Linked DNA regions of Homo sapiens: regions 1, 3 and 4 are each linked to region 2. Evidence: fine-mapped expression QTL. A gene starts in region 2. Each other region holds a variant in brackets. All regions are shown on one strand. Distances are from middle to middle.

Region 1 (8,100 bases), 220 kb after region 2:
AGATGAACTTAAAGTGTAGAGTTTTTATTAGTCTTCCTTTTGCTTTATGTTTGTTTACACAATCAGTGTTGTCATCCGTTTAAAATAATGAGTTATAAGATAATATTTGCAAGCCTCACGGCAACCTCAAATCAAAAAGCACACAATAAGTGAGACTGTGTCTCAAAAAGAAAAGAAGAAAAAACACACAATGGATACACACACACAAAAAAGCAAGAAATTAAATCATACCACCAGAGAAAATCACCTTCATTAAAAGGAAGACAAGGAAAAAAAAAAAAAAAAAAAAAAAAAAGAGAAGACCACAAAACAGTGAGAAAAGAAATAACAAAATAGCAGGAGTAAGTCCCTGCTTAGCAATAATAACATTGAATGTAAATGGACTAAACTCTCCAATACAAAGACACAGAGTGGCTGAATGGATGAAAAAGCAAAGCTCAATGCTCTTTTGTCTAGAAGAAACACACTTCACCTGTAAAGATACACATGGACTGAAAATAAAGGGATGGAAAAAGATACTCCATGCCAATGGAAAACAAAAAAGAGCAGGAGTAGCAATACTTAGACAGAACAGATTTTAAAACAAAAACTGTAAGAGGAGGCCGGGTGTGGTGGCTCACGCCTGTAATCCCAGCACTTTGGGAGGCCAAGACGGGCGGATCACGAGGTCAGGAGATTGAGACTATCCTGGCTAACATGGTGAAACCCCGTCTCTACTAAAAATACAAAAAATTAGCCAGGCGTGGTGGCGGGCGCCTGTAGTCCCAGCTACTCAGGAGGCTGAGGCAGGAGAATGGCGTCAACCTGGGAGGCGAAGCTTGCAGTGAGCCAAGATCGCGCCACTGCACTCCAGCCTGGGTGACAGAGCGAGACTCCGTCTCCAAAACAAAACAAACAAACAACAACAACCAAAAAAACTGTAAGAGGAGACAAAGAAGGTCATCCAGCAACAGAATATAACAATTGTAAATACATATGCACACAACACTGGAGCACGTAAAGCAAATGTTATTGGAGCCCAAGAGAGACGTTAACGCAATAACAGCTAAAGACGTCAACACCCCACATTCAGCATTGGACGGGTGTCCCAGATGGAAACCCAATAAGAAAACATTAGACTTAATCTGCACTACAAAAGAAATGGACCTACTAGATACTTACAGAACACTTCGTCTAAAGTCTGCAGAATACACATTCTTCTCCTCAGCACATGGATCATTCTCAAGGATACACCATATGTTAGGTCACAAAGCAAGTCTTAAAACATTACAAATGTTAAAATAATATCAAGCATCTTCTCTGACCACAACAGAATAAAAGTGGAAATCAACAACAAGAGGAATTCTGGAAACTATACATACACGTGAAAATTAAACAATATGGTCCGGAATGGCCAGTGGTTCAATGAAGAAATTAGGAAGGAAATTTGGCTGGGCACAGTAGCTTACACCTGTAATCCCAGCACTCTGGGGGGCTGAGGCAGTCAGATGACCTGAGATAGGGAGTTCGAAAGCAGCCTGGCCAACATGGTGAAACTCCGTCTCTACAAAAAATACAAAAATTAGCAAAGCATGGTGGCATGTGCCTGCAGTCCCAGCTACTAGGGAGGCTGAGATGGGAGGATTGCTTGAACCCAGGAAGTCAAGGCTGCAGTGAGCCCTGATGGCATCACTGCACTCCAGCCTCGGTGACAGAGCAAGACCCTGTCTCAAGAAAACACACACACACACACACACACACACACACACACAGATGCTCAAACTAATATCATTTTGCTGTTAGAGCCAAGAGGGGTGGCCTGTGTAGTAAAAAGTGGGGAAGTCATTCCTTGCACAATGCAAGCCACTGGACCAAGAGTCCAAACTGACTCTTGACAGGAGGCTGGGAGATATCTGCTAAGGCCTTGGAATGTCCTGCCTGAAATAGTGTCTTTGTACATAGCTAGGGCCTTGGACCGTACAACACAGTTTATGCCAACAATGTGATCGAGGGTGGGGCCGTCAGGCCTGTATCCATCTGACTTCAGGAGGGGCTGGAGACTGAGTAACTGAGGTCAGCCATGCTGCGGGGGCTCAAGCCTAGGATGACCAACTCCCAACAAAAACCATGGACACCAAGGCCCAGGTGAGCTTCCGTGGCTGGCAGGGCTCTCTGCTGCCTCACTTACTGTTGGGGGAGAATTAAGCACTGCCTGTAGGAGTCCACCAGAAAAGAGAGCTGCAGCCTTGGCCTGGTCATTCTGGACTCTGGTCCCTGTGCCTTTCATCTTTGCTGACTTTAATCTGTACCCTTCTCTGTAATAAACTGTTAACAGGGAGAATAACAGCTTTTCTAGGGCTGTGAGACCTTCTAGAAATCACTGAACCTGAGGGTGGTCTGGGGGAGCACAACACAGTCTCCCACCCTAGCCAGGGAATGGGTTGATTCTTGGCATATGCCTATTCATATCCACCCCAGCCAAGACTTACGCATGGACTTTGTCACCAAGCCAGGCAGCCAGTGATGGGTCTCTGGGCGTGACGTGGGGGCAGGCTGTTTCCTGCTGAGAATCACTATGCCTGTATCTCAAGTAAAGTCAGGCGTCCAGGTAAGAGTGAATGAGGTGAGGCTGGTCTCGGTGGCTCACGCCTGTAATCCCAGCACTTTGGGAGGCTGAGGCTGGTGGTCACGTGAAGTCAGGAGTTTGAAACCAGACTGGCCAACATGGCGAAACCCATCACTACTAAAAAGACAAAAATGAGCCGGGGGTGGTACCCGGTGCCTGTAATCCCAGCTACTCAGGAAGCTGAGGCACGAGAATCGCTTGAACTCTGGAGGCGGAGGTTGCAGTGAGCTGAGATTGCACCACTGCACTCCAGCCTGGGTGACAGAGTAGGCTCCATCTCAAAAAAAAAAAAAAAAAAATGAATGAATGAGGTGAGGGGTGAGGGGTGAGGGGTGAGCACTGACATCAGGCAGGTGACTGACGACCCAACACAACCAGGACCTTGGCAGGGGCCCAGACTGGATACAGAAACCAAGTGGGAGCCACTAGACTAATTTATTGTACAACAGGGTCCCAGCTGAGGAGCAACTCTAGCGGGGCACAGCA[C/T]AAAGCTCATAGGGGGATGGCGTCACCAGAAAGCCGACGACACGAGAGTGGCTGGGCCGGGGCTGTCCGGTGGGCACCGAGAAGCTGAAGTGCTGCAGCAGGGAGGTGAAGAAGAGGAAGAGCTCTATGCGGGCCAGGGGCTCCCCGAGGCATGCACGGCGGCCTGTGGGGAGGGGAGGGGCGTCAGTGAGCCTGGCTCCCGGGTGATACCCCTGCAAGACTCCACGGAAGGGGACAGGGAGCCGGGCTCCCCACAGGCACCTGCTGAGAAAGGCAGGAAGGCCTCCAGCTTCACAAAGTGGCCCTGGGCATCCAGGAAGTGTTCGGGGTGGAAGCGGAAGGGCTTCTCCCAGACGGCCTCATCCTTCAGCACCGATGACAGGTTGGTGAAGAGCATCATCCCCTGGGCAGGAGATGCAGGGTGAGAGTGGGGACTGGACTCTAGGATGCTGGGACCCCCAAGCACACAGGGGACACACACTGCCTGGCACACAGCTGGACTCTGTCAACTAGTCCTGTGCCCGAGAAGCTCCAGAGCACCCTCTCCGACCCCATGGCAGGGCGCAGTCACACCTCCTGGGAGCGCCCACGCTACCCCCTCTCCCTACAGGTATTGGGGTCCTCCAACATTCTGGCAGGTCCTGGTCTGCCTTCCCCACTAGACTGGGGCTCTGGATGGACAGGCCAGCCCTGCCTATACTCTGCACCCCACACCCAGGCTGGGACAGTCGATGTGGTGGCATTGAGGACTGGGTGGCCAGGGTTCCTAGACTGGGCCCACCTGGCAGTGGCCATGCTGGGGCTATCACCAGGGGCTGGTGCTGAGCTGGGGTGAGGAGGGTGCCAGGCCTACCTTAGGGATGCGGAAGCCCTGTACTTCGATGTCACGGGATGTCATATGGGTCACACCCAGGGGGACGATGTCCCCAAAGCGCTGCACCTCGTGAATCACGGCAGTGGTGCAGGGCATGCGAGCCTGGTCACCCATCTCTGGTCACCACACCTGCCCTATCACGTTGTCGATCTGTTGGACACGGCCTGGACAGACACGCGTCCCCACAATGGGTCAGCACCCAGGGGACCAGCCCTGACACTCTCCTGCCTCCTGTGTTGGAGGAGGTTAGGCTTACAGGAACCTGGCCAAGCCTGTGCTTGGAGTCCCGGGTGTCCCAGCTAAGCTCAGGGGCCCCCACCTGTACCCTTCCTCCCTTGCCCCCTGCACTGGGCCCCAGCTGGGCTCACGCTGCACATCCGGGCGTAGGATCATGAGCAGGAGGCCCCAGGCCAGCGTGATCGAGGTGGTCACCATCCCGGCAAAGAACAGGTCAGCCACCACCATGCGCAGGTTCTCATCATTGAAGCTGCTCTCAGGGTTCCCCTTGGCCTGAGCAGGGCTGAGAGGGTACTCAGGGGACAGAACGGGAAAGCCCCCAAATGACCTCCACATTCTGCACCTGTCAGCCCAGGTGCCACTTGCCAAGTGATCCAATGGACCCACCTTTTGCCTGCCTCATTCCTCCCGGACGCTCAACCCACCACCCCTGGTCCCTACCGTGTCAGCCACTCTCACCTTCTCCTTCTCTGCCAGGAAGGCCTCAGTCAGGTCTCGGGGTGGCTAGGCTGGGTCCCAGATCATTCTGTGCTCGGTCAGCAGCTCATCCAGCTGGGTCAGGAAAGCCTTTTGGGAGCGTAGGACCTTGCCAGCCAGCCCTGGGATGCGCAGGAGGAGGGGGACAACATTCAGCATCTACAGCTGACACAGAACGGGGTCTCAATCCCTCCTGTGCTCTGCGTTCACCTGGACCAGTCTCAGGCCCCAGCTGCCTCCAGGGAAGACCCAGGGCCTACCTGTCCCCACCACTCACCTCCCCAAGTCCCTCCCCAAGTGCCAGCCTCCACCCTCTCTCCTTGCCCTGGGCTGCCAGAGGAGAAACCTAAAAATCAAAATCTCCAATGTGGACAGGAGGCACAGGGTCCTTGGCCTTTCTTGGTGCCCCCTGACCCGGGCACACCTCTCCCACGACCGTATCTGAGATGTCTCCTCCTCCTCAAGGCCCTTCCTCTAGCAGTGAGCTCTTCTGGAATGTCCTTTCCCAAACCACTCTATGCAAACCCTGCTCCTTGGAGGTCCGGCTGCAGTCCCGGCACCTCTCAGGAGCTCGCCCTGCAGAGACCCTGCGGTCCCTCGCTCCACATCTCTCACAGAAAGCCCAGCTCCTCCTTCAATCCCTTCTGAGCTAGGTCCAGTAGCCTGAGGAAGCGAGGGTCGTCGTACTCGAAGCGGCACCCGCAGGTGAGGGAGGCGATCACGTTGCTCGCCGCTTTGTTCAGGAGGCCGTTGGGGTGAAAGGGGCGTCCTGGGGGCGGGAGATGCGGGTCAGGGGTCGCCTTCCCAGTCCTCCACCTTCCCAGTTCCCGCTTTGTGCCCCTCTGCCCATCACCCACTGGCTTGGTCGGCGAAGGCGGCACAGAGGCAGGCGGCCTCCTCGGTCACCCACCGCTCCAGGGACTTCTTGCCCAGGCCCAAGTTGCGCAAGGTGGACACGGAGAAGCGCCTCTGCTCGCGCCACGCGTGTCCGTAGTGTGCCAGAAACACCCCTGGGGGCGGGACGGACACATGGGCGTGGTCATGGAGGCCTTGGCCCCGCCCTCCGCCGCCCACTCCAACCCTGTGCTTTTCCTGGTCTCCCGCAGTCCCTGGCCCTGTCCAGCTGGGCACAGGGCCTGCTCTTTGCTCACTCACCTTGCTTGGGTCTTGGCCCCACCTTGGCTCTTCCGACCCTGACTGCCTTTCCACTCAGGGAAGATCCCGCCCGTCCCGCCCCGCCCATACTGAGCCCACAGCAGAGTCCATCCCGGCTTCTAGACACCCGCTTCCAGCTGGGAAAGGCGCCAGCTCCGCCCACCCGGTTCCTGGTGGGTCTCGGCAGTTGCCCCGCCCACTCACAAGCCCCTCTTCCTCCCGCCCACAGACTCGCACCTCCCCAATGGAAGTGGTTTCCTGGCTCGCTGTCCCCAACCCACTCACTGGCCCACAACCCCGCGCCCTCTCAGCCCAGCTTGGGCTACGGTCACCGCCCACCCAGGACCCACGGAAACGCAGTCTCTGTCCCCCACCGCCGCTTGCCTTGGGAGCGCGGCCCGATGCCCAGGACCTGGTAGATGGGCGCAGGCGGGCGGTCGGCGGTGTCCTCGCCGCAGGTCACCAGAGCCTCACGCACGGCCGCCAGCCCATTGAGCACGACCACCGGCATCCAGGCCAGCTGCAGGCTGAACACGTCCCCAAAGCGGTGCCGCAGCTGTAGAGGGAGGGTCAGGGCCTCCGTTGGGTCAGGGCCTCCATCAGGCCAGGGTCCCCCCAGACTGCAGGTCCTAGTCCTATTTGAACCTTAGACGACCCTCGGGGCTACCAGGAGTGAGCAGGTGGAAGGAGGAGACCCAGCCTCCCGATCCTGGGGCGGGGATGGGGTCACACCTTCTGTGATGGAGGAACTCAGTTTGGATGCGTCACCCAGGTATGACCTTGCAAGAGTCACCAAAATTGCCGAGAGGCCCCAGTTAGCATCCCATTCCCAGATGATGGTCCATGCCGGTGAGCAGTGAGGCCCGAGGACCCACAGTGCAAAAGGTTTGAACCGGGTCCACTATATCCCTTCATCCTTGATTTCTAACTTACTCATTTATTTAGACCATGTCTGGCTCTGTCACCCAGGCTGGAGCGCAATGGCGCGATCTTGGCTCACTGCAACCTCCACCTCCCGGGTTCAAGCAATTCACCTGCCTCAGCCTCCCATGTAGCTGGGATTACAGGTGCCCACCACCGTGCCCCGCTAATTTTTGTATTTTTAGTAGAGGCAGGGTTTCACCATGTTGGCCAGGCTGGTCTCGAACTCCTGACCTTGTGATCCCCCCACCTTGGTCTCCCAAGATGCTGGGATTACAGGTGTGAGCCACCGCGCCCAGCCGTTGATTTTTTTTTTTTTTTTTTTTTTTTTTTTTTTTGAGACAGAGTCTCGCTCTGTCGCCCAGACTGGAGTGTAATGGTGTGTTCTCAGCTCACTTCAAGCTCTGCCTCATGGGTTCATGCCATTCTCCTGCCTCAGCCTCCCAAGTAGCTGGGACTACAGGTGCCCACCACCTCGCCTGGCTAATTGGTTTGTATCTTTAGTAGAGACGGGTTTCATTGTGTTAGCCAGGATGGTCTCGATCTCCTAACCTCATGATCCGCCCGCCTTAGCCTCCCAAAGGGCCGGGATTACAGGCGTGAGCCACCGCGCCCGGCCTGATTTCTTATTCGTTTATTTAGACATTGTCTGGCTGTGTCACCGAGGTTGCAAGGCAATGGCACAATCTCCACTCACTACAACCTCTGCCTCCTAAGTTCAAGCAATTCTCCTGCCTCAGCCTCCCAAGTAGCTGGGATTGCAGGCGTGCACCACTGTGCCCAGCTCATTTTTTGTATGTTTAGTAGAGACCGGTTTTTGCCATGTTGGCCAGACTCATCTGGAACCCCTGACCTCAGGTGATCCGCCCACCTTGGCTTCCTTAAGTGCTGGGATTATAGGCGTGAGCCACCACGCACAGCCTGATTTCCTGATTTAAACGGCACACAGGACCCTGACTCGTCTTCCATTCCCAAGGCCTTTCCTTCTGGTGTCAGCAGAGGGGACTTTGTGCTCCTAACATATGCTGCCCAATGGGCTTGCACGCCCACTGCCAAGTCCAGCTCCACCTCCAGGCCCTTGCCCTACTCTTCCTTGGCCTTTGGAAAATCCCATCTTTCATGCCATGCATAAATGCCCTCCCCCAGGAAGTCCCTCAAATCTGCTTCCCCTTCTCAGCCTGGCTTCTTGTCCAGACTGTGGCTCCACCCACCACCCATGTTTGCTGGTGGTGGGGGATCCTCAGGACCTCCTCCCTCACCTGGTTGAAGGTGTATATGTTCTGGAAGTCCACATGCAGCAAGTTGCCCAGCCCGGGCAGTGGCAGGGGGCCTGGCGGGTAGCGTG
Region 2 (8,097 bases):
GTCTTGTCCCCAGACCCCAGAGCAAGGAACACCATTGTAAGAGGAGGGAGCAGCTTCCACTGTGACGGTGGGTGACCAGGGGGCTGGCACAGGATGGCCAAATAAGCCCAGCACTGGGGGGCCAGTGCTTCAGGGGAACAAGCCAGAGAGAGAAGGGAGTTCAAGGGACCTCATGTCCACCTGGTTCAAGGTCACACGCCTGCCCTGGCCTCTACACAAAGGAGCCTCCTGTAGGTCCCAGCCCTTCCATGTTTATGGCTAAATGTGCTGTGTCTTGGAGCAGCTGGAACCCCAGGTGGACCCTGAGAGAGCTACCTGCCAGCATGTTCCTTCAGCTCGAGTTTGGAGTCCAGCCCTGGAGGCTGCGCACCTCCTCCCAAATGCAGGCTTGTGGCTCTGGAAGCTGCCACTGGGGTCAAAATGGCATCTTAGGTTCTGGCAGATTGGGCCAATCTCAGGGTTGACCCTGGGGTACAGATACCTGAGAATCAGCAAAATCCAGCTCAATCTTTTCTCCTTTGTTATTTCTTAAAATAATCTTGTACTAAATCCCAAAGCAAGCGAACCCATGAATTGATTATTCACTGCTGCCATTTGCATCAGTTTAAAAGCAGGACGGCTCTGAGGGCAGGTATTAAAGAAATAGAGGCCAGGCCCGGCGCCTCCTGCCTATAATCCCAGCCCTTCGGGGAGGACTGCCTGAGGCCAGGAGTTTGAGACTGGCCTGGGCAACATACCGAGACCCTGTCTTTAAAAAAAAAAAAAGGCCAGCCACGGTGGCTCACGCCTGTAATCCTAGCACTTTGGGAGGCTGAGGCGGGCGGATCACGAGGTCAGGAGATCGAGACCATCCTGGCTAATACGGTGACACCCCGTCTCTACTAAAAATACAAAAAAAATTAGCCGGGCGTGATGGCGGGCGCCTATAGTCCCAGCTACTCAGGAGGCTCAGGCAGGAGAATGGTGTGAACCCAGGAGGCGGAGCTTGAAGTGAGCCGAAATTGCGTCACTGCACTCCAGCCTAGGCGACAGAGCGAGACTCTGTCTCAAAAAAAAAAAAAAAAAAAAAATTAGCTGGGCAAGGTGGAGCACCTGTAGTCCCACCTACTCAGGAGGCTGAAGCAGAAAGATTGCTTGAGCCCAGGCTGCAATTAGCTGGGGACCCATCGTTGCACTCCAGCCTGCGTGATACAGCAAGACCCTGTCTCAAAAAAAACCAAAACACAAAACAAGGCCGGGCATGGTGGCTCATGCCTGTAATCCCAGCACTTTGGGAGGCCGAGCAGGGCGGATCACGAGGTCAGGAGATCGAGACCATCCTGGCCAACATGGTGAAATCCCGTCTCTACTAAAAATACAAAAATTAGCTGGCTGTGGTGGTGCGTGCCTGTAATCCCAGCTATTCGGGAGGCTGAGGCAGGAGAATCACTTGAACCAAGGAGTCGGAGGTTACAGTGAGGCGAGATCGCGCCACTGTACTCCAGCCTGGCGACAGAGCAAGACTCGTCTCAAAAAAAAAAAAAAAAAAAAAAAAAAAAAATCAAACAAACACAAAAAACCACCCAACTACAAATTAGGCATCCTCCCACTTGGTCTTTTTTCAGATTCATTTTGGCTTAATGGTGCCTTCCCCATTTTAAAAGCGGTCTTTTACTCATAGTGCCCCAGCCTTTTGAAGGCACAGGAACAGGAGCTGGGCTACCACCTTCAAGGGCTGTCAAAGATGGTGAGGTCTGAAGCCAAAGGCAAGCACACCAAACTCCATGGGGGCTGAATGCTGTGGTCTGTAGTGTCTGTGCTTCTGCAGAGTTAGCCTGGTCCCAGAAAGAGGGCATGTGCATGCTGGAGTGAAGAGCTGAATTTGATTTCCAAGCCCCTGGCTGGGGGTCCAGAGGGAGGGCAGGGGCCACCTCCTGCCGGCTCCCTGCTATTGTTGCTCAGGGCCGGCCGTCTTGGTGGTCACCAGTTCAGTGGAGCCCAGCTCTGTGGCTGGCACAGGGACACTGTGGCCAGGTGGGGTGGTTCCTGGGTCTTCCCCAGGAGGAGGCCAGGCAGGAGCTGTGGCATCAGAGATTCCCGGAGACAGAATGATGACCTTGTCCAGGGGCTCTGGGGCTGCAGGCAGAGGGGGTAGAGGCTCCGTACTCAGTCACAGCCTTCCCTCCCTCCCCTAGAAGACTCCTCTGGAGGGGCAGTCCTCCGTCAAATGAAGCCCAATGCAGGGTGGGGAGGGGTGGCACCTGGCTGACCCTGAGTCCAGAGGCCTGGCCAGTGGGGAGCTGGCAGGGCAGGGAGTTGGGGAGCTGGGGCTCAGTCTGGCAAACTCTTCAGGGATTTATGGGGGAACCAAGCTCCGTTAGACTCCCAAAGGGCAGGACAGACTCCTCCCTCAGACGGGGCCCCCTTCCTGCAACCTGTCTCTTCCTCACACTGGGGTCTGTCAGGGCAGAGCTGTTCCTGGCTCCGACCAGGGTCTCAGGGGCAGGACTATGTCTCCCTCCCCAGCCTGAGCTCCTCAGCGCAAACTCTTTTCCACTCTGTCTCCGTTTCCCCTTAAAGCCCTTCTCTCCCCCTCAGGGGCCATGCATCTCCCCCTAGACCGTCCCGACACCCCAGCCCCTGCGCCCCGCTCAGACTGGTTCCCCTACACACGGAACTCACCGTCCTTGTCTCCGTCGGGGGCCTCTGCGGAGGACGCGCCGCGAAGCCGCCGCTGTCGCCGCCTCCAGCTCACCAGACCCACCAGGACCAGCGCCAGGACCAGTGCCAGGCCCAGCAGCGCGGGGGCGCCAAAGAGCAGCCCGGGCAGGGGCAGCGCCGCCTCGCCGGCCCCCGCGCCCACCGACTCCTGCGGCTGCAGCGCCGTCCTGGGCGCAGGGCTGCTGGCCCCGGCTGCTTCGGGAGGGGACAGGGAGGGAGGCCAGGGGGCCGAGGGGAGGGAGGAGCGGGGACGGGGAGGGGCGGAGGGGGGCGAGGCTGGCCGGGGAGGGGAGGGACAGCCGGGGGGCGGTGGACAAGGGGAGGGAGAGAGGCGGCGGTGAGGGCCACGCGGTGATCGCGGGCCCCTCCAGGCCCTGCCCACAGGGTCCTTTCAGCCCTCGGCGCCCCCGGGGGTCGGGGCTCTGCCTGCGCCCTGGCGATCGGGGCCCCGTTCTCCCCGCAGCTGCCGGCGCCGCGCGCCCCGTGGGTCCCCCTTACCCGGTTTCGGCCGCGGCGTGCGCAGGAGCCCGCAGGCCACGCAGTGGCGGACCAGCAGGTCGAAGCACTCGGCCGGGACGCAGGGCGTGGGGGCTGGCGCGTCCCTGCCCCGCAGGCTCCGGGGCCCTCGCCTCATGGTGCCGACGCCGCCGCACAAGCTGCGGGGACTGAGGCTGAGCTGGGCTCCGGGGCCCTCGGGGAGGAAGCGGGGGGCGGGGGGAGCACTCTGCCCTGCCCCGCCCCCGCCTGCTGGGTGGGACCGAGCTCGCCTGGGGCCCCCCTTTCTTTTCTTTTTTTTTTTTTGAGACGGAGTCTCGCTCTGTCGCCCAGGCTGGAGTGCAATGGCGCTATCTCGGCTCACTGCAAGCTCTGCCTCCCGGGTTCAAACAATTCTCTGCCTCAGCCTCCCGAGTAGCTGAGATTGTAGGCGCCCACTGCCACGCCCGGCTAATTTTTGTATTTTTAGTAGAGACGGGGTTTCACCATCTTGGTCAGACTGGTTTTGAACTCCTGACCTCGTGATCCACCTGCCTCGGCCTCCCAAAGTGCTAGGATTACAGGCGTGAGCCACCGCACCCGGCCTGGCCTCTCTTTCTACCTGTGGTTCCCCAATTCAGCCCCTCAACCAGCACCGCCTGGGTGGGCCCTCTGCTGGGTGCTGGGAGGTGTCTGGGGGCAGACCAGAGCCTCCTCTTGGGTAGGGAGGGGGATGGACCCCGCAGCCAGGACACAGACCCTGAGTGGTTCCTCTGCTCCGTCTAGCCAAAGCCTCTCCATGACCCCGAGTGCTCCCCTGCCATCTCCCCCAACCCACCTGTCTCCTCCTCTCTTCCTGCCCTTCCTGGACAGAGCTGGTTGGGGATATCAGACACCTGCTTTTTTTTTTTTTTTTTTTGAAAAAGAGTCTGGCTCTGTGCAGTGGTGCAATCTCGGCTCACTGCAACCTCTGCCTCCCAGATTCAAGCGATTCTCCTGCCTCAGCCTCCCGAGTAACTGGGATTACAGGCATGCACCACCATGCCCGGCTAATTTTTGTATTTTTAGTAGAGGTGGGGTTTCACCATTTGGCCAGGCTGGTCTCGAACTCCTGACCTCAGGTGATCCGCCCTCCTCGGCCTCCCAAAGTGCTGGGATTATAGGTGTGAAGCCACAGTGCCCAGCCTGACATCAGACACTTGTACCAGGCCCAAGTAGCATGTGGGTCTGCCCTGAGGGAATCTCACACTTGTGCTGATGGGGGAAGACAGCCTCGCAGCAAGGGCACCAGCTCACGTCATCCTGGAAGGTGGGCCGGAAGGCTTCATGGAGAGGGCGATGGTGAAGTGTTTGCCAGATGGACTGAGGTCTAGGGAGCAGATGGGGGTGAAGGCCAAAGGGGAGCAAAGGCTTGGAGGCCCAAACAGGAAGTCCAGGGAGTGCTGGGACCGAAAGGCTGGACTGGGGCCTTATCTAGCACATTAGGGAGCTTGGACTGTGGCTGGGGGACACGAGGGAGCCACTGGGGCTTTGTGCAGGGAGGACCCAGGAAGATCTGCCTATGAGTGAGGGAACTGTGACTGCAGTGGAGGGAAGCCCGCCCACACCTGCTCCTTTTCTCCAGGGCTATGTGTCCTCTCCTGCTCACCTCTGTGTCTCACTGCGGGCCCCTCCTGTCTATCTCTGCTCCCCAGTGTTTGGGGTCCCCAACTGTCTGTCACCCGTGTCTCTCTCAGACTGCGTCTCAGAAACACACACAAGCCCCTCCGCCCTCCTGGTCACATGCTACCCCCTCCCCAGGGCCAGGGCTGGAGGGAACTCTGGGAGCTCAGGGCTCAGCAGAGAGCATGGGGTTAAATGCCACACATGCCACCCAGACCCCTAAGCACTCAGGGCTGGGGAAGCACAGTGAGAGGAGAAACTCAGGGGCTGGGGAGGGAGCCTGGGGGCAGAGGGAGACCCTGAGCAGCAGCGAGGGGGAGGCAAACACTCCAGGCGGAGGGCTGCAGGGGCTAAGGCTTGGAGAGATGAAAGGGGAGCCTGAGCTGCTCTGGGGGCAGGCATGGCCACTGCCACAGGGGATGCTGGGAGGGAGGAGGGAGCATCCGGGCTGCGGATGGGCAGGGCACCAGTCCCGGGGCAGTACAGAACCTGGGGGTGTCTGGGTAGGAGGGAGATTCTGAGCTGTACCTGCAAGGGTCCCTCTCTCTGGCACTGTGGCCCACGTCCAGGGCAGGTGGCCCAGGGCAGGGGATGATGCAGCGGCTGGCCATGGAGTGAGGGGAGCAAGGCCGACCCCCAGGTTTCCAGCTTGGGAGACCCTGAAGGTTCACAAAGAACCCCAGTCAGCCAGCCCTGACTGGTGGGCGCTGGCCCACCCTCTCCATCCCCTGTACATGGGCCAGCAGCTCCCAGGCAGGAAGGTGTGGGCGGAGGGGAGCTGCAAAGGAGAAGTGGGGCTGGGGGCAGGTGTGGGTGAGCGTGGGTGTATGGTGATGTGGGGGTGGGGGCAGGTGTGGGTGAGCGTGGGTGTACGGTACAGGGATGGGGGACAGGACCCTGGAGGGGAGCCAGGGCAGGGAAGGCCTCTCTGTGAGGCAGAGAGGTGGGGACAAAGCCAGAAGACTGAGCCATAACCCTGCCACCCACATACACGTCCATCCATGTTGGTGCTGGTATTACCCATTAGTGAGGGCTGCAGAGGCCTGACTGAGTACCAGGCAGCTCATTTAGCCCTTGTGCCAGCCATGTGGGCAGACTGAGGCTTGTGGGAACCCAGGAACGGGGAACCTGTCCCTGGAGAGGGTGGCCCAGTGAGGCCAGAGTCGGGAGAATTTACAGGAGTTAGGAGGAGGGGGTCCGCCTGCCCCAGGTCTGCGTTTCACAGCAGAAGCACTGGCTGCTCTGACCCCCAGCAGAGACTCGAGGAGACTGCTCTCAAGGCCAGAGAGAGTGGGAGGGCTGGAGCCCACTGTCAGAGTTCCAGGGTCCCTTACCTTGGCCAGAGAGGGAGGCCAGCTGCTAAGAGCAGCAGACACAAATGAGACACCCACTCATGTGACACAAATGTTTGCTGGGCGCTCCCTATGTGCTGGGCCAGGTGCCGGGACAAAAGGCCTGCGGGATTCGTGTCTGTGTTGTGTGCAGGTGCCTGGCCTCACATGAACCTTTCCACTTGGGCCTCCTAAATGGGGTGGGGGTGGGGGGCTGCAGCAGGCCCTGTGTCGCTACTTGGATGACAAAACAGTTAAGAAGAATTCACAATCAGACCAATGTGGGGAATGTTAGTTTACTCCTCAATGTATTCTTATTTCCCCGTGGCTTTTTTTTTTTTTTTTTTTTTTTTTTGAGACGGAGTCTCTCTCTGTCGCCCAGGCTGGAGTGCAGTGGCGCAATCTCCGCTCACTGCAAGCTCCGCCTCCCAGGTTCACGCCATTCTCCTGCCTCAGCCTCCCGAGTAGCTGGGACTACAGGCGCCCGCCACCATGCCCGGCAAATTTTTTGTATTTTTAGTAGAGACGGGGTTTCACCGTTAGCCAGGATGGTCTTGATCTCCTCACCTCGAGATCTGCCCGCCTCGCCCTCCCAAAGTGATGGGATTACAGACGTGAGCCACCGCGTCCCTTTTTTTTTTGAGACGGAGTCTGGCTCTGTCACCCAGGCTGGAGTGCAGTGGCGTGATCTCGGCTCACTGCAGCCTCTGCCTCCTGGGTTCAAGCCATTCTCCTGCCTCAGCCTCCCACGTAGCTGGGACTACAGGCACGGGCCACCATGCCTGGCTAAATTTTTTTGTATTTTTAGTAGAAATGGGGTTTCACCATGCTAGCCAGGCTGGTCTTGAACTCCTGACCTCAAGTGATCCACCCACCTTGGCCAACACGCCTGGCCTAATTTCTTTTCTTTTTTTTTGAGATGGAGTTTCACTCTTATCGCCCAGGCTGGAATACAGCAGTGCGATAAGCAACACCCAACTCAGCTCACTGCAACACCCAACTCCCAGGTTCAAGCGATTCTCCTGCCTCAGCCTCCTGAGTACGTGGGATTACAGGCACCTGCCACCAGGCCCGGCTAATTTTTTGTATTTTTAGGAGAGGTGGGGTTTCGCCATGTTGGGGAGGCTAGTCTCAAACTCCTGACCTCAGGTGATCTGCCCACTTTGGCCTCCCAAAGTGCTGGGATTACAGGCATGAGCCACCACTCCTGGCCTAATTTCTTTATTCAAGTCTTTTTTTTTTTTTTTTGAGATGGAGTCTCGCTCTGTTGCCCAGGCTGGAATGCAATGGCACGATCTTGGCTCACTGCAACCTCCACCTCCTGGGTTCAAGCGATTCTCGTGCCTCAGCCACCCCAGTAGCTCGGATAACAGGCACGTGCCACCATGCCCAGCTAACTTTTGCATTTTAGTAGAGACGGGGCTTCACCATGTTGGCCAGGCTGGTCTCGAACTCCTGGTCTCAAGCGACCTGCGCGCCTCGGCCTCCCAAAGTGCTGGGATTACAGGCGTGAGCCACTGCACCCGGCCACCATGCTCTACTTTTAATTCACTGAATACTCTTTTTAAAAAGATAATTTGGGCCTGGTGTGGTGGCTCATGCCTGTAATCCCAACACTTTGGGAGACCGAGGCGGGTGGATCACCAGAAGTCAGGAGTTTGAGACCAGCCTGGCCAACATGGTGAAACCCTCTCTCTATAAGAAATTTAAAAAAAAAAAAAAATTAGCCGGGTGTCGTAGCTGGCGCCTGTAATCCCAGCTACTTGGGAGGCTGAGGCAGGAAGAATTGTTTGAACCCGGAAGCCAGAGGTTACAGTGAGCTGAGGTCGTGCCACTGCACTCCAGCCTGGCTGACAGAGCGAGACCCCATCTCAGAAAAAAAAAAAATAATAATAAAATAACAAGATAGTTTGGGGTCTTCAGAGAGAAG
Region 3 (8,100 bases), 87 kb after region 2:
GAATACCATTTATTTATTTATTTTATTTTTTGCCTAATTGCTCTGGCTAGGACTTCCAATACTATGTCGAATAGAAGTGGTGAAAGCAGGCATCCTTGCCTTGTTTCTAATCTTAGAGGGGAAGCTTTCAGTCTTTTGCCATTCAGTATGCTGTTAGCTGCAGGCTTTTCATATATGGCTTTTATTATGTTGAGGTAGCTTCCTTCTACTTTTAGTTTGTTGAGTGTTTTTATCATGAAAATATATTGAACCTTTTCTTTTCTTTTTTTTCTTTTTTTTTGAGACGGAGTCTCGCTCTGTTGCCCAGGCTGGAGTGCAGTGGCGCAATCTCGGCTCACTGCCAGCTCTGCCTCCAAGGTTCACGCCATTCTCCTGCCTCAGCCTCCTGAGTAGCTGGGACTACAGGCGCCCACCACCACACCCGGCTAATTTTTTGTATTTTTAGTAGAGATGGGGTTTCACCGTGTTAGCCAGGATGATCTCGATCTCCTGACCTCGTGATCCGCCCGCCTTGGCCTCCCAAAGAGCTGGGATTACAGGCGTGAGCCACCACGCCTGGCCAAAAATATACTGAATCTTTTCATATGCTTTTTCTGCATCGATTGTGATGATCGCATGGTTTTTTCCCTTCATTTTGTTCATATGGTGTGTTACATTGATTCATTTTCCTATGCTGAACCATCCTTGCATTCTAGGAGTAAACCCCATTTGGTCATAGTGTATAGTCCTTTTAATGTGCTGCTGAATTTGGTTTGCTAGTATTTTGTTGAGGATTTTTTACATCAATATTCATCAGAGATACTGACCTGCAATTTTATTTTATTGTAGTTTCTTTGTCTGGCTTCGGTATCAGGGTAATGCTGGCCTCATAAAGTAAGCCTAGAAGTGTTTCTTCCTCTTTAATTTTGGGGAAGAGTTTCAGAAAGATTAGTTAATTCTTTAAACGTTTTGTATAATAGAATTTGTTGAGAGGTTTTTTTTTCTCTTTTTGAGACAGGTTCTCACTCTGTCACCCTGTCTGGAGTGCAGTGATGTGACATGATCACAGCTTACTGCTGCCTCAATCTCCGAGGCTCAAGTGATCCTCCCACCTCAGCCTCCCGAGTAGCTGGGACTACAGATGTGTGCCACCACACCCAACTTTTTTTTTATATATTTTGTAGAGATGAGGTTTTCAAGTTGCCTAGGCTGGTCGGAAACTCCTGGCCTCGAGCAATCCTCCTGTCTCAGCCTCCCAAAGTGCTGGGATTAAAGGCATGAGCCACCACACCTAGCTGAGAGGTTTTTGGTTACTGATTCAATTTCCTTACTAGTTAATTGGTCTGTTTATATTTTATGTTTGTTCATGATTCAGTGTGGTAGGTTGTGTTTTTCTAGGGATTTATCCATTTCTTCTAGGTTATCCAACTTGACATACAATTGTCCTTGGTTTTCTCTTTAATCCTTGTAACTCCTTGGCATCAGTTTTTTTTTTGGTTGTTGTTGTTGTTGTTTTTCTTGTTGTTGTTGTTTTGGAGACAGAGTCTTACTCTGTCGCCCAGGCTGGAGTGCAGTCGTGCAATATTGGCTCGCTGCAACCTTTGCCTCCTGGGTTAAAGTGATTCTCCTGCCTCAGCCTCCCTTGTAGCTGGGATTACAGGTGCCCACCACCATGCCTGGCTAATTTTTTTGAATGTTTATACTAGAGATGGGGTTTCGCCATGTTGGCCAGGCTGGTCTCAAACTCCTGGCCTCAAGTAATCCACCTGCCTTGGCCTCCCAAAGTGCTGGGATTACAGGCTGAGCCACCATGCCTGGCTGGCATCAGTTTTAATATCCTCTTTTTCATTTCTGATTTTAGTTGAGACTTCTCTCTTTTTCTTAATCTAGCTAAGAGTTTGTCAAGTTTGTTGAACTTAAATTTTTTTTCTTATTTTTTTCTATTCTCGCTTTTATTTATCTCTGTTCTAATCTTTATTATTTTCTTCTTTCTGCTAGCTTTGGGCTTCATTTGTTTTTCTTTAGTTCCTTGAGGCATAAAGTTAGGTTGTCGATTTGAGATCTTTCTTCTTTATTAAAGTACACATCTGCAGCTATAAACATCTTAGCACTGCATTTACAGCAACCCATAAGCTTTGGTATGTTGTGTTTTCATGTTCATTTTTCTCTAGGTACTTTCTAATTTCCCTCTGATTTCTTCTTTGACTCATTTATTTAATAGTGTATTGTTTAATTTCCACATATTTGTGGCAGTTTTCCTTGTGCTGTTGATTTCTAGTTTCTTTCCATTGTAATCAGAAAACATATTATAAAATATAGCGTTTCTTGTATTTCAAATCTACTAGTAAAGAGCTTTCATTTTTTGTTTATTTGGTAATGTCTTAATTTCTCTTTAATTTTTGAAGGATAGTTTTGCCACTCATAGAATTCTTGGTTAAGAGTTTTTTGTTTTTAGGGCTGGGCACGGTGGCTCTCGCCTGTAATCACAGCACTTTGGGAGGCCGAGGCAGGTGGATCACGAGGTCAGAAGATGGAGACCATTCTGGCTAACATGGTGAAACCCCATCTCTACTAAAAATGCAAAAAATTAGTTGGGCGTGGTGGCACGCACCTGTAGTCCCAGCTACTCAGGAGGCTGAGGCAGGAGAATCACTTGAACTCAGGAGGTGGAGGTTGCAGTGAGCCAAGATCATGCCACTGCACTCCAGTTTGGGCAATGGAGCATGACTCTGTCTCAAAAAAAAAAAACAACGGAGTGTTTTTTTACTTTTAGCAGTTTGAATATGTCATCACATTTCCTTTTGGCCTCCATGATTTCAATAAGAAATCGCTGCTGGCCGGGCGTGGTGGCTTATGCCTGTAATCCCAGCACTTTGGGAGCCCGAGGTGAGCAGATCACCTGAGGCCGGGAGTTCGAGACCAGCCTGACCAACATGGAGAAACCCCATCTCTACTAAAAATACAAAATTAGCTGGGTGTGGTGGTGCATGCCTGTAATCCCAGCTATATAATCCAAGCTACTCGGGAGGCTGAGGCAGGAGAATCACTTGAACCTGGGAGGTGGAGGTTGTGGTGAGCCAAGATTGTGCCATTGCACTCTAGCCTGGGCAACAAAAGTGAAACTCCATCTCAAAAAAAAAAAAAAGAAAAAGAAAAAGAAAAAGAAATCAGCTGCTAGTCTGAGGATTCCTTGTGCGTGATGAGTCACTTATCTTGTTAATTTCAAGATTCCTTGTATTTGGCTTTCAATAATTTGATTATAATGCATGTCAGTGTGGAACTGAGTTTATTCTACTTGGAGTTTGTTGCACTTGGATGTGTAGATTCATGTATTTCATTAAATTTGGGAAGGTTTTGGCCATTATTTATTTATTTTGAGATAGGGTCTCTATCACGTAGGCTGGAGTGCAGTGGCACGATCACAGCTCACTGCAGCCTCGACATCCCAGGCTCAAGTGATTCTCTTGCCTCAGCCTCCTGAGTAGCTGGGGCTACTGATGCATGCCACCACACCTGACTAAATTTTTAATTTTTTTTTTTTTTGAGAGAGAGTCTCACTCTGTTGCCCAGACTGGAGTGCATTGGTGCGATCTCAGTTCACTGTAACCTCTGCCTCCTGGGTTCACGCAATTCTCCGGCCTCAGCCTCCGGAGTAGCTGGGATTATAGGCATGCACCACCCACGCCTGGCTATTTTTTGTATTTTTAGTAGAGATGGGGTCTCACCATGTTGGTCAGGCTGGGCTCGAATTCCTGACTTCAGGTGATCCATCTGCCTCTGCCTTTCAAAGTACTGGGATTACAGGCATGAGCCACCGCACCCCACCGGCAAATTTTTAAATTTTTAGTAGAGGTGAGGTTTCACTATGTTGCCCAAGCTGGTTTCAAACTCCTGAGCTCAAGCAGTCCTCCCGCCTCAGCCTCCCAAACTGCTGGGATTACAGGCATGAGCCACTGTTTCCGGCTCAGATATTCTTTTTTCTTATTTTGAGACAGGGTCTCCCTCTGTCACCCAGGCTGGAGTGCAGTGGTACAGTCGTGGCTCACTACAGCCTTGACCTCCCAGGCTGAAGCAATCCTCCCACCTCAGTGTCTTGGATAGGTGGGACTGTAGGTGCACTCCACCATGCTTGGCTAATTTTTTGTATTCTTTGTAGAGATAGGGTTTCACCATGTTGCCCTTGCTGGTGTTGAACACCTGTGCTCACGCATTCTGCCCACTGTGGCCTCCCAAAGTGCTAGGATTACAGGCATGAGCCACCGCGCCTGGCCCCAAATGTTCTTTATTCCCCTTTCTCTCTCTCCTCTCCTTCTTGAATTCCCATTCTAGATATATTGGTATGTTTGATGGTGTCCCACAGATTTCTTAGACTTCGTTCATTTTTTCTTCGTTTTTTCCCATTTGTGTTACTCAGGTAGTAACCGTTATTCCCATTGACCTACTTCAAGTTCAATAATTCTCTCTTCTGCCTGCCAAAATTGGCTGTTGAGCCCCAGTGATTAAATTGTTCATTTCAGTTGTAGTCTTCAACTCTAGAATTTCTGTTTGGTTCCTTTTAATAATTTCTGCCTCTTTATTGATA[T/C]TCTCTACTTCCTGAGACTTTGTTTGTATTCTTTCTTTTAGTTATTTGGACATCATTTCCTTTAACTCTTTGAGTATATTTACAATAGTTTATTTAAAGTGTTGTCTGATAAATCCAATGTATGGGCTTCCTCAGGGACAGTTTTTATTAATTTATTTTGTTCCTGTGTATTCCCATACTTTCTTGTTCCTTTGCATGCCTAGTGATTTTTGTTGTTGTTGAAAACTGGACATTTTGAATATTTTAATGTAGTAACTCTGGAAAGTAGAATCTCCCTCTTCTTCAGGGTATATTTTTGTTGCTTGTTATTTGTTTGTACAGTGACTTTTCTGTACTAATTTTGTAAAGTCTGTATTCTTTGTTATTTGTGGCCACTGGAATCTCAGTTCTGTTACCTCAGTGGCCAGCTAGTGATTTGACAGAAATTTTCTTCTATGTCTGGAACAACAACAACAAAATCTCCCAGCCCTTGCAGATGGGCTTTGTGTGTGTTGGAGCATGAGCGTGCCTTTCTTACTCAGCCAGGCAGTTTACAACTCTGCCTTCACCTTCACTTCTTTTTGCATCATTTCCTTTTTTTTTTGAGACAGAGTCTTGCTCTGTTGCCCAGGCTGGAGTGCAATGGCATGATCTTGGCTCACTGCAACCTCTGCCTCCCGGGTTCAAGCAATTCTCCTGCCTCAGCCTCCTGAGTAGCTGGGATTATAGGCGCCCACCACTACGCCCAGCTAATTTTTGTATTTTTAATAAAGATGGGATTTTGCCATGTTGGCCAGGCTGGTCTTGAACTCCTGACCTCAGGTGATCTGCCTGCCTCAGCCTTCCGAAGTGCTAGATTACAGGCGTGAGCCACCGCACCGAGGCCTTTTTGCATCACTTCTAATTGTCAATCAGAGGTGAAAGCTTAGTGCCTCTTCAGTGTGTGTGTGTGTTTCATTTTTTGTTTGTTTTTAGTATGAATCTAGCCCTGGACATGTATGTGTATGGCTTTCTTGTTTCTCAGGAATATGTGTGAGCTTTTCGAAGCCTTTATTCCTCAAAGCATCTCATTGCTCATCCTTTCCTTTAGCTTTTCAATTTGTCTGTTTTTTTGCCCCAGTTGTCATCCCTTTCGCTAGGTAGCAGCAACTAATACATTGGCTTGGAAATTTTTTTTTTCTTGAGATGAAATTTCGCTCTTGTTCCCCAGGCTGGAGTGCAATGGGAAGATCTTGGCTCACTGCAAACTCTGCCTCCCGGGTTCAAGCAATTCTCCTGCCTCAGCCTCCCGAGTAGCTGGGATTACAGACACATGCCACCAGGCCCAGCTAATTTTGCATTTTTAGTAGAGACGGGGTTTCTCCATGTTGGTCATGCTGGTCTTGAACTCCCGACCTCTGGTAATCCTCCCGCCTCAGCCTCCCAAAGTGCTGAGATTACAGGTATGAACCACCGGACCCGGCCGGAAATGTTTTTGACAAATGCCTCCCGGTAGCCTCATCAGTCCCGGGAAAATTACAAATTAAATACATGCCCTTTGAGCCGGTCCTTCAAGGAGCCACCAGACAAGTCAAACTACAATTTTTAAAAATAAGTGTGTTCTGCTCCCTCCAGTACTTCGTATCTATCATGGGAATATAGATTGTTGTCTTCAAAGCTGCTGCCAAGCTAGTAGTGGGGGATGATACCAGGGTAGGTTAAAATGTCATAAAGCTTACTTACTGAGATTTGGCTTTTTAAAAAAATTACTTAAGCATTCCCCTAGTTACCATAAGCTTTTGATTAGATTCTAGAGTTCTGAAAAAGTTGATTCTGACAGGTTTTCTTTTGCTTTATTTATTGCTTTTATGGCTAGACTGACATTTAAAGATTCCCATTCCACAGTTTTTTGCTAATGTCCTGTATTTTCATAGTCTTTTAAAAATCCTCCCCTTTTAATCTGCACATTACCACCCTAGTTCCAGTTTTTACCTTGCATCAGGACTATTTTAGGAATTCTTAAACTGATCCCTCTGATACACTACCTTCTTGATTATGTGACTTTCCTGTTGAGAAATCTGAAGCTCACAGTTTCTCCTTGCCTATCAAATGATGTCTTTAAGCTGTAGTTCCAGCATAGCTTTCCAACTTTGTTTCACTGTTTCTCCTAACCTCACTTCCACACTGTGTTTTGATGAAGCCATACCACTAGGCTTCTCCCAAGTATGCAGTTTGCTTTCCATATCTGCTCCTGCACCTCCATGAATGCTGTTTGCTTCCCATCTGGATTGTCCTCTACCTTCACCTCTACCTACTGAATGCTACCCATCTCTCTCTCTCTCTTTTTTTTGAAACAGGGTCATACTCTGTTGCCCAGGGTGGAGTGCAGTGGATCACTGCAATCTGTGCCCCATGGCTCAAGCAATCTTCCCACCTCAGCCTTCCGAGTAGCTGAGATTACAGGCATGTACCACCATGCCTGGATACTTTTTGTATTTTAGTAGAGATGGGGTTTCACCATGTTGGTCAAGCTGGTCTCTAACTCCCCAAATGATCCGCCAGCCTCGGCCTCCCAAAGTGCTGGGATTACAGGCGTGAGCCACTGTGCCCAGCCAGAATACTACCCATCTCTTAATCAGCTCAAATTGCAGTCTTTCTATTAGGTCATTCCTAATTACTTCAACTAAAACGAATCTCTTCTTTCACTAAATTGCTATGACAGTTTGTTACTAATAAATGTATGACATACATTTATATTATGTATGTCATATATTGTTTGCATTATGATCTGTATTCATGCTTTCATTCATTCTTTTAATAACTATTTAGAGCACCCACTGTTTGCTAGGGCTAGAGTAGCAAAGAAGGCAGACATTGTACCTAATGATCATTATACATTGGTTACATATATCATTAAGAAAGAAAAGGCTGGGGGACTGGGTATGGTGGCGCATTCCTGTAGTCCTAGCACATTGGGAGGCTAAAGCAGGCAGATCTCTTGAGCCCAGGAGTTTGAGACCATCCTGGGCAACATGGTGAAACCTCATCTCTACTAAAAATACAAAAAAATTGGCCGGGTGCAGTGGCTCACGCCTGTAATCCCAGCACTTTGGGAGGTCGAGGCGGGCGGATCACCTGAGGTCAGGAGTTCCAGACCAGCCTGGCCAACATGGTGAAACCCCGTCTCTACCAAAAAATACAAAAATTAGCCTGGCATGGTGGCAGGCGACTTAATCCCAGCTATTTGGGAGGCAGAGGCAGGAGAATCGTTTGAACCCGGGAGGCGGAGGTTGCAGTGAGCCGAGATCGAGCCATTGCACTCAAACCTGGGGGACAAGAGCAAGACTTCTCTCAAAAAAAAAAAAAAAAAATTAGCCAGGCGTGGTGGTGCTTGCCTACGGTCCCAGCTACTCAGGAGGCTGAATGGGAGGATCACCTGAGCCCAGGAGGTGGAGGTTGGTGAGCAGAGATTATGCCACTGCACTCCAGCCTGGGCAACAGAGTGAGACCCTGTCTCAAAAAAAAAAAAAAAAAAGACAGAAGAAAGAGAGAGAGAGAAAAGAAAGGAAGGGAAGGGAAGA
Region 4 (8,100 bases), 29 kb before region 2:
CATTTAACCCCCCTTGCCTGTCTCTTTTCCAGCTGACCCCATTGCGCAGGTCCACCAGGCCTTCTGCAAGAACCTGCTGGAGCGAGCTATAGAGTCCTTGGTGAAACCTCAGGCCAAGAAGAAGGCTGGAGACCAGGAAGAAGAGAGCTGGTAAAGTCCCCAGACCAGTCCCCCTGCCTTAGGACCTGTCCACGCAGGCAACTCCAGGACAGCCTGAAGGCCTGCACTCCTGGAGGGAAACAAGCCTGGCATCGGGTTGGCAGGGCAATCAAATGGTTCCTTTGTATTTAATTTCTCAAAAATGAGAGCCCTATGTTAACTCTGACCTGGCCTTTCCTCCTAGACCAAGTGCGTTTTTTTTTTTTTTTTGGAGACGGAGTCTCGCTCTGTCACTCAGGTTGGAGTGCAGTGGCGCAATCTTGGCACACTGCAAGCTCTGCCTCCTGGGTTCACGCCATTCTTCTGTGTCAGCCTCCTGAGTAGCTGGGACTACAGGCGCCTGCCACCATGCCCGGCTAATTTTTTGTATTTTTAGTAGAGACGAGGTTTCACCATGTTAGCCAGGATGGTCTCGACCTCGTGATCCGCCTGCCTCAGCCTCCCAAAGTGCTGGGATTACAGGCGTGAGCCACCATGCCCAGGCCTTTTTTTTTTTTTTTTTTTTTGAGATGGAGTTTCGCTCTTGTTGCCCAGGCTGGAGTGCAATGGACCAGTCTCAGCTCACTGCAACCTCTGCCTCCCGGGTTCAAGTGATTCTTCTGCCTTAGCCTCCCAAGTAGCTGGGATTACAGGCGCCCACCACCATGCCTGGCTAATTTTTGTACTTTTAGTAGAGATGAGGTTTCACCATGTCATTCAGGCTGGTCTTGAACTCCTGATCTCGGGCAATCCGCCTGCCTCGGCCTCCCAAAGTGCTGGGATTACAGGCATGAGCCACCACGCCTGGCAGGTGCACCCATTTTTATGTATCCCTTTACCAAGCGGAGTCAGTACTTGGACCAAGTCAGGGATTTCATTAGCTTGCTCTGCTTTTTGGGGTAGGGAGCAGGGGCCTGTTGAAAGGGGATGGGGGCTGGGTGCAGTGGCTCACGTCTGTAATCCCAGCACTTTGGGTGGGAGGCCAAGGTGGGCAGATCACGAGGTCAGGAGATCGAGACCATCCTGGCTAACACGGTGAAACCCCGTCTACTAAAAATACAAAAAATTAGCCAGGCGTGGTGGCGGGCGCCTGTGGTCCCAGCTATTCCGGAGGCTGAGGCAGGAGAATGGCATGAATCCGGGAGGCGGAGCTTGCAGTGAGCCAAGATTGCGCCACTGCACTCCAGCCTGGGTGACAGAGCTAGACTCTGTCTCAAAAAAAAAAAAAGAAAGGGGATGGGAATGAAATGTGACGAGCTCAGCAGAAGGCAGACACATCTGGCCTGGACATCTTGGGGACCCAGCCCCTCATGGAATGTGCCGGGCAATTTTTCTCTCTGACATACTTACTGAGCACAGTCCTTCTTTCACAGAGTAAGACCTGAGAGGCAGATAGGTGCCAAAGTCACTTTTGTTTTTTGTTATTTTTGTTTGTTTTTTGGGGGGTTTTTTGAGACAGTGTCTCACTCTGTCACCCAGGCTGGAATGTAGTGGTACAGTCTTGGCTCACTGCAACCTCTGCCTCCTGGGTTCAAGCGGTTCTCCTGCCTCAGCCTCCCAAGTAGCTGGAATTACAGGCACGCGCCACCATGCCCGACTCATTTTTGTATTTCTTGGTAGAGGCAGAGTTTCACCATTGGTCAGGCTGGTCTGGAACTCCTGACCTCAAGTGATCTGCCTGCCTTGGCCTCCCAAAGTGCTGGGATTACAGGCGTGAGCCACCGTGCCCGGCCCCAAAGTCACTTTCCTACAAGGCCCAGATCCTGATTAGGGTGCACCTGAGGAGAGGGGGAGGGGGCAGTTCTGCCTGGGAGATAAGAAAACTTTTGGGAGGAGATGACACTGGACTTGGGGCTTAAGGAGAGGAGTGAGGGTAGGCTGTGGGGGATGCTAGGGAAAGGCCCCCAGTAGAGGGAAGAGTGTCAGTGACAGCCCAGAGACACGGAGGAAGGATGCCTGAGGAATACAAAGGGTACACATAGACAGCGCTTGCGTGTGCCTGGGATGACAGGAAAGGGACAGAAATGGCCATTGGGTCTTAGAGCTGGAGAGCTGAACAGCTAGGCCATGAGGTGGGCCTTGTGTATATGTTTTGATGTACATGGGACCCTTTCTTTTCTTCCTAGTGAATTCTCCAGTGCTCTGGAGTACTTGAAATTACTTCATTCTTTTGTGGACTCTGTGGGGGTTATGAGCCCCCCACTCTCCAGGAGCTCCGTGCTCAAGTCCGCCCTGGGTAAGCACCTGCGGGTGGCCCACAGTCTCAGGGTGCTCAGTTCAGGTCTTCACAGTGCTTTTGCCCCAGGGGTCCAGGGCGTTAGGAGTGTAGATGCCAGCATCTTCTCTGGATCCCAGGTTCATACCTGTGGCTCCAGTTCACAGTCACCCCCTCCCAAACAGCACTCAGAGGCAGGAAACTATGGTTTTCAGAGAAGTAGGGCAATGAGTAATTGAATGTCTTCCTCAAGCCCTAGCTGTGTGACCCAGGTGAGGACCCTTCTTAATGCCCAGAAGAACAAGCAATGAGTGGCCCAGGCACCAGGGATGGTGGGGAGTCACCTTTCAGATGCACAGTGGCCCCTGAGGCAGCTCTTGGGCCTTATGCTCTTTGCTGAAGAGACTTTTCATCTGGGCCTCTCTACCACTCCTCAGCCCCTCATCACATCAGTGTCACAGCACAGCCCACTGACTGGATTGACATCATGACATTTCTTTGCTTCTGTCCCTAAACTGCCATCAGGATGATAGCACATCAGCTGCCAACTCTTGGGCTTCTGTGGCCACCCTGGAAGATGGGGGTACCAAGCTACCGCTGGTCACTCTCCCTAGGGAGGGAGGGATCCCAGAAAATCAGCCACCCTATCATGATCCCTGACCTGTGGCCTCTGTTTTCAAGTTTAGGGAAGCATGACCATCCCCGCTGGTTTTGTGGGATCACTACTGTCATCATTTTGCAGTTGAGAAAACTAAGGCTGAGAGAGGAGAAGACTTAAAATATTCTAACAGGAGCCTGTTCCAGATACTTTGAAGATACCATTCTTTATGGCTATTGAAAGCTTAGGTTGTATCCATCTTTTTATTTAAAAACAACACTGCAGTCAAATATGTGTTAAACTTTTTTCTCTCTAAGCCAGTTTCATTATGACAGACTGCCAAAAATGGGATTACTAGCTTAACGGGAGTGAACTTTTTTATTTTTTTTGAGACGGAGTCTTACTCTTGTTGCCCAGGCTGGAGTGCAATGGCACGATCTCGGCTCACTGCAACCTCCGCCCGCACCGAGGTTCAAGCGATTCTCTTGCCTCAGCCTCCCTAGTAGCTGGGATTACAGTCACCCGCCACCATGCCCAGCTAATTTTTTTGTGTATTTTTAGTAGAGAGGGGGTTTCACCATGTTGGCCAGGCTGGTCTCAAACTCCTGACCTCAGGTGATCCACCTGCCTCAGCCTCCCAAAATGCTGGGATTACAGGCGTGAGCCACCGCGGCCAACCAGGAATGAACATTTTTAAGGCTCTTGATATATATTGCCAAACACTTTCCAAGATTGTGCTGGTCTATTCCCCTCCCCCAGAATCCTGGGTGTGGGAGCCCAGAGGCTGCTGGCCCGTTCCCAGCAGGCAAAGATGTTACCCATCTCCTAGGAAGGAAGTGTAGCAGCCTCTGAGCGCCACAGGTCTCGTTTCTGTGGGTGCTGGAGTGCGTTTGGTGCTGTTCTCCTCTAGGTCCAGACATCATCTGTCGGTGGTGGACGTCTGCAATCACTGTGGCCATCAGCTGGCTCCAGGGAGACGATGCAGCTGTGCGCTCTCATTTTACCAAAGTGGAACGCATCCCCAAGGCCCTGGAAGTGACAGAGTGCGTAACCCTCCTTGGCCACTCACTTGCTTCTCTCCAGGGGAATCTTGTTTGAGTTAGCAGGAGCAAACTGGACTGGGTGGGCGTGTTGGGGTGAAGGGTCAGGACTGCATGACAGGTGGGCGGCTAGAAAAGTCGGGGGTGAGGGCACCATGGAGAACTCAAGTTGGGCCAGCAGGTCCTCTGTGCAAGTGTCCTGCTCTGCACAACACGACAGTTGTCCCAGCAGCTGTCAGCACTGTGTCCGGGTCCTCCTCCCTGCAGCCTTCATGGCGCCACAGGCTGAAAAGAAGAGACGAGAGCAGTGTGGCCCCCAGCATCTTCAGAAGCTTTGTGGTGGAGGCAGGCACTGGTGGTTCACAATCAGTGCAGAGAGGCCACTGTTGCCCCCAAAACTCATGTGCACTGGAGCATCTTGCCCCTGTGTGCTAGCATTTTATCCACTTTCCTTCCAGCCACCTCCA[C/G]CCCCACCATCAACCCTGGCAACTTTGTCCTGTAACTAAAATAGCCTTTAGCACATGGCATAACCGGAGAGCTTTTGACATTCCTCTTTGGAGATTCATGTCTGCGTCTTGGGGGCATTCGGCACTAGTGATGGGCAGCCCTGCCTGCTGACTCCCCGGCTGTTTCTAATTGGATCTGAGTATTCTAAGAGAAACTGTAAAATGCTCCAAGACAGAAAGGCCCCACGAGGTCCTATCCTTAGAGCCAAGGCTGTAGCATTTCCTATCAAGCAGACCCTTAACCGGCGCACAGGAAGGAGCTGAGAAGAGTGAGTATACACAGGCTTGAAGTCCTTTGTTCCCTGAAGTAGATGTGACACCCTAATTTCATTGAAGTAGCCCCATTTGTAAGCACTCTGACTAGGTAAGCACCCAGCCCGGTATAGCATTCCACCTGTATGTGTGTCTCCCCCAGTCGATGTGCCTGAGGACACTGAGACTCAGCAGGTAAGTTGTCCAAAGTCACCTCGCTCCAGAGCAGCAGAGCTTCCATGGACAGCCAAGACACCCCTGCAGGCACTGCTGCCTGCTGGATTCACTTACCCCTGGGTCCCTCTGCTTTTCAGGGACTAGGATGCTATGAGAACCCTCCCCCATCCCTAGCCTCCCCTTCCACTCCCAGTCTCCTCTACAGAAAGAAGCTAACTAAGTATCTCCAGAGAGTTTAATACCACATCTCTGGGGGGGTGGTCCCTTAAAGAACGGGTACAACACCTTATTGTGGCCACTTTATAGGTAAGGAAACTGAGGCACACGTTGGAATGACTATCTTGGGTGGCTTCTTAGCAGCAGACGTGATGGTGAAGCCTGTGTCTCTGACTTCCAGCATTGAATGAAGGTGCTAAAGGGTGGGGCGCTAACCCTAGCTCAGGGCTGGCATTTCAGATCTGGAGCTGGTGGCATGGTGCCATAGTGGCAGCATTGGAGTCAACAGATGCACATGTCATATCAGTGTGGGGCGTGGCAGTCACTGGCTTGGGCCCCTCTGCCTGTCACGCAGGTGACACATAGTGACCTGCCTCTCGACTCCCTGTCACTGCTGCAGGAGCCCCCTGGTGAAGGCCATCTTCCATGCCTGCAGAGCCATGCATGCCTCACTCCCTGGGAAAGCAGATGGGCAGCAGAGTTCCTTCTGCCATTGCGAGAGGGCCAGTGGCCACCTATGGAGCAGCCTCAACGTCAGTGGGGCCACCTCTGACCCTGCCCTCAACCACGTGAGTGGGAGCTGAGTTGGCCCCTGGGGGAGGTGCTCTGCACTGGTTTACGAGAACACTCCCACTCACCTCATGCTGACCCTGCGGGTGGGGCCATCCGAAAGACAGAGAAACCAGGACAGCAGCCCCCTTTCAAAAAAGTTACGGCTTATTGGCCTAGGTGGACTCCTTTTTCATCCCTTTTCAGCCTCTGAGGCAAGTGTGTTTCTACCTGCACCTTTCTTAGGCTCCCAGAGTCCCAGGTCCTGCTGGCCCATAGCCTCTGTAAGCCCAGGTGCACCCCAGCTGGCCAGGGGTTCACCTGCATTTGCTCCAGCGGTTTGCGTGACTTCCCAGGCCTCTGCAGGCAGCCTTGGAGTGGGTTCCTGCCCCCTCGGGCACACAAACAGAGCTGAAGACCACCCTGGGCACCTCCTTGGCTGGCCGCATACCTCCTGGCGGGCAGCTGTGGTGCATTGTAGTTGCATTGCATGTTCTGGTGGTACCCATGCAATGTTTCCACAGTGCATCACAGAGGCCTGCCTGGCCCTCGAGAGACTGCCCTGACTGAAGGCCCTATCAGGTGGGGGAGGGGATCCTGATAGAGGGCACTGCTGCCACTGTTGGGGCCCAAGTCACAGCCATCCCAGGAAACAGGAGGGCACCCAGCTGAAAGTGGAGCATCACCTGGTCTACGGGGAACATGTCCTTAGCTCCAGAGTGGGAGGGACCGGGAGAGTCCTGGAGATTCAGATTCTCAGCCACTCCCTGGGGCTTGGTCTTAGCTGGCTAGGCTAGTACTTCAAGCTAGATATTGTCAGTGGACCTGGGCACTGGGATGAACCCAGGACAGCGTGGCAGCCCCTACAGGGACAGGCAATGTGCAGAAAAGGCCCAAACTGGCTGGACGCGGTGGCTCACACCTGTAATCCCAGCACTTTGGGAAGCTGAGGTGGGCAGATCACCTGAGGTCAGGAGTTCGAGACCAGCCTGACCAACATGGTGAAACCCCGTTTGTACTAAAAATACAAAAATAAGCCAGGTGTGGTGGCATGTATCTGTAATCCCAGCTACTCAGGAGGCTGAGGCAGAAGAATCACTTGAACCCAGGAGGTAGAGGTTGCAGTGAGTCGAGATTGCACCACTGCACTCCAGCCTGGGCAACAGAGCGAGACTCCATCTTTAAAAAAAAGCTGGTGGGGGTGCCCAAATGCCCTGGGCTGCCAAGACCAAAGGCAGATGGTGAGCCACATTTCACCTTCTCTTTTGGGCTTTCCATTAGTCTCTTCCGTATTTGTCTTCATGAGAGAACCAAACAGTACAGGCTCAGTTTGGGGAATGAGAGGCTTGCAGCCACCCTTTGGACTGGGGTTCCTTGGTAGCAGCTCTGTGGTAGGAAAGTGAGCCTAGAAGACAACGCCATGCAGCCTGATGGCCCTCGGAGGGCAGAATCCAGACATAGGCCTGCTGCCTCCATGCCCACAGGTGCTTCTGCAGCATGCACAGCTTAGAAGTGCCAGGTTTTGAGGAGAGGGATCCTTTTCCACATCCCCTTGAAGCACACAACAGCCAGAAAACAGTGTAGGCAAGGATCAAGGCCTTGTGCAGGGACAGGGCAGGGTCTTCCTCAGGCCCAGTGTCCTGGGAAGGAGGAAAGCCAGGGCTGGGTGAGATGAGGCTCAGCCTGAGGGAGTTCATCAGGACCGGAGGGCTGCTTGCGGCCCATCTCAACAAGGACTCCTCACTGCTCGGTGTCGTGCAGGTGTGCCACTGCGAGCCGGGTGGGCAGCCCAGCCCCATAGGTCGTAGGCAGAGAGTATGCATGGCCCACATGCAGTACCTTCTCATATGATACAACAGCCCTGTGATGGTGCCATTTACATTTTTTTGAATGAAGAAACTGAGGCTCAGAGAGACTAAGTCCTATGCCAGGGTCATGTAGCTAGTAAGTGGCAAAGCCGGGTCAGTAGGCCTAGTCCCCAAGCACTAAGGCACTCTGTGGTTCTGTCTTCTGAGACACCTGTCTCCCTCTCCCACTCCTCCTCCTCCTTCCCCCAGCCCCATCGACAGGCTCTGCTGCCACTTCAGGCTTTTCCTTGGTACCTTGTGGGTATCTCAGCCTCCTAGCCAGCCATGGTGGGACTCCCATGGGGTGGAAGAACCTGCGCCTTCAACCCACAAGGGTTTTATTTCTGCCCCTGCCACCTGCCTGTGCTGTATTCCCTATACAAGCTGCTGTCCCTGTCAGAGCCTTGCTTTCTCACCTGCAGAATGGGGAGGGCTTGTCTCCCACCTCCTGGGGCCATGGAAGGAACTGGTTCTCCCCTGAGCTGTTCCCTCACGTCCTGCGGAGTTCACCAGACTCTGGGGCTCTCCACTTCCTCCCAGAGCTGCTGAGTGTTGGTCTGGG

Which allele goes with the higher level. Positions count from the first base shown, and alleles are read on the strand shown. Sizes are in standard deviations (SD) of each study's normalised expression. Not every link is listed here.
In carriers of allele G in region 4, the expression in left ventricle of the gene that starts at base 3,367 in region 2 tends to be lower than with C alone (small effect, 0.37 SD a copy in GTEx).

The links.
Region 1: its variant is fine-mapped to the expression of TNFRSF13C in whole blood (TOPMed, PIP above 0.99).
Region 3: its variant is fine-mapped to the expression of TNFRSF13C in whole blood (INTERVAL, PIP 0.95).
Region 4: its variant is fine-mapped to the expression of TNFRSF13C in left ventricle (GTEx, PIP above 0.99).

What each region holds. Positions count from the first base shown.
Region 1 is chr22:42,146,811-42,154,910 of GRCh38, forward strand. LOC105377203 (a long non-coding RNA gene) reads right to left here and starts at 2,690. Exons shown (of 3, transcript XR_938280.2): 1 at 2,469-2,690; 2 at 1,162-1,543. It also overlaps the pseudogene CYP2D8P. The variant C/T (reference allele first, on the strand shown) is at 3,092.
Region 2 is chr22:41,923,440-41,931,536 of GRCh38, forward strand. TNFRSF13C (TNF receptor superfamily member 13C) reads right to left here and starts at 3,367. Exons shown (of 3, transcript NM_052945.4): 1 at 3,199-3,367; 2 at 2,662-2,892; 3 at 1-2,115. The coding sequence starts at 3,334. The coding sequence ends at 1,928. It also overlaps a transcript of CENPM not described here. RefSeq lists enhancers at 1,594-2,095, 2,096-2,595, 5,153-5,222, 5,366-5,976, 5,977-6,586 and a silencer at 2,688-3,427.
Region 3 is chr22:42,010,277-42,018,376 of GRCh38, forward strand. All of the region lies in intron 1 of WBP2NL (WBP2 N-terminal like), which reads left to right. Among named protein-coding and RNA genes, the nearest start is that of WBP2NL, 16 kb to the left of the region's middle. RefSeq lists enhancers at 5,413-7,086, 6,285-7,850. The variant T/C (reference allele first, on the strand shown) is at 4,562.
Region 4 is chr22:41,894,788-41,902,887 of GRCh38, forward strand. It overlaps SREBF2 (sterol regulatory element binding transcription factor 2), which reads left to right. Exons shown (of 19, transcript NM_004599.4): 13 at 33-150; 14 at 2,265-2,374; 15 at 3,862-3,994; 16 at 5,543-5,711. It overlaps MIR33A (microRNA 33a), which reads left to right and starts at 6,157; the gene lies at 6,157-6,225. The variant C/G (reference allele first, on the strand shown) is at 4,459.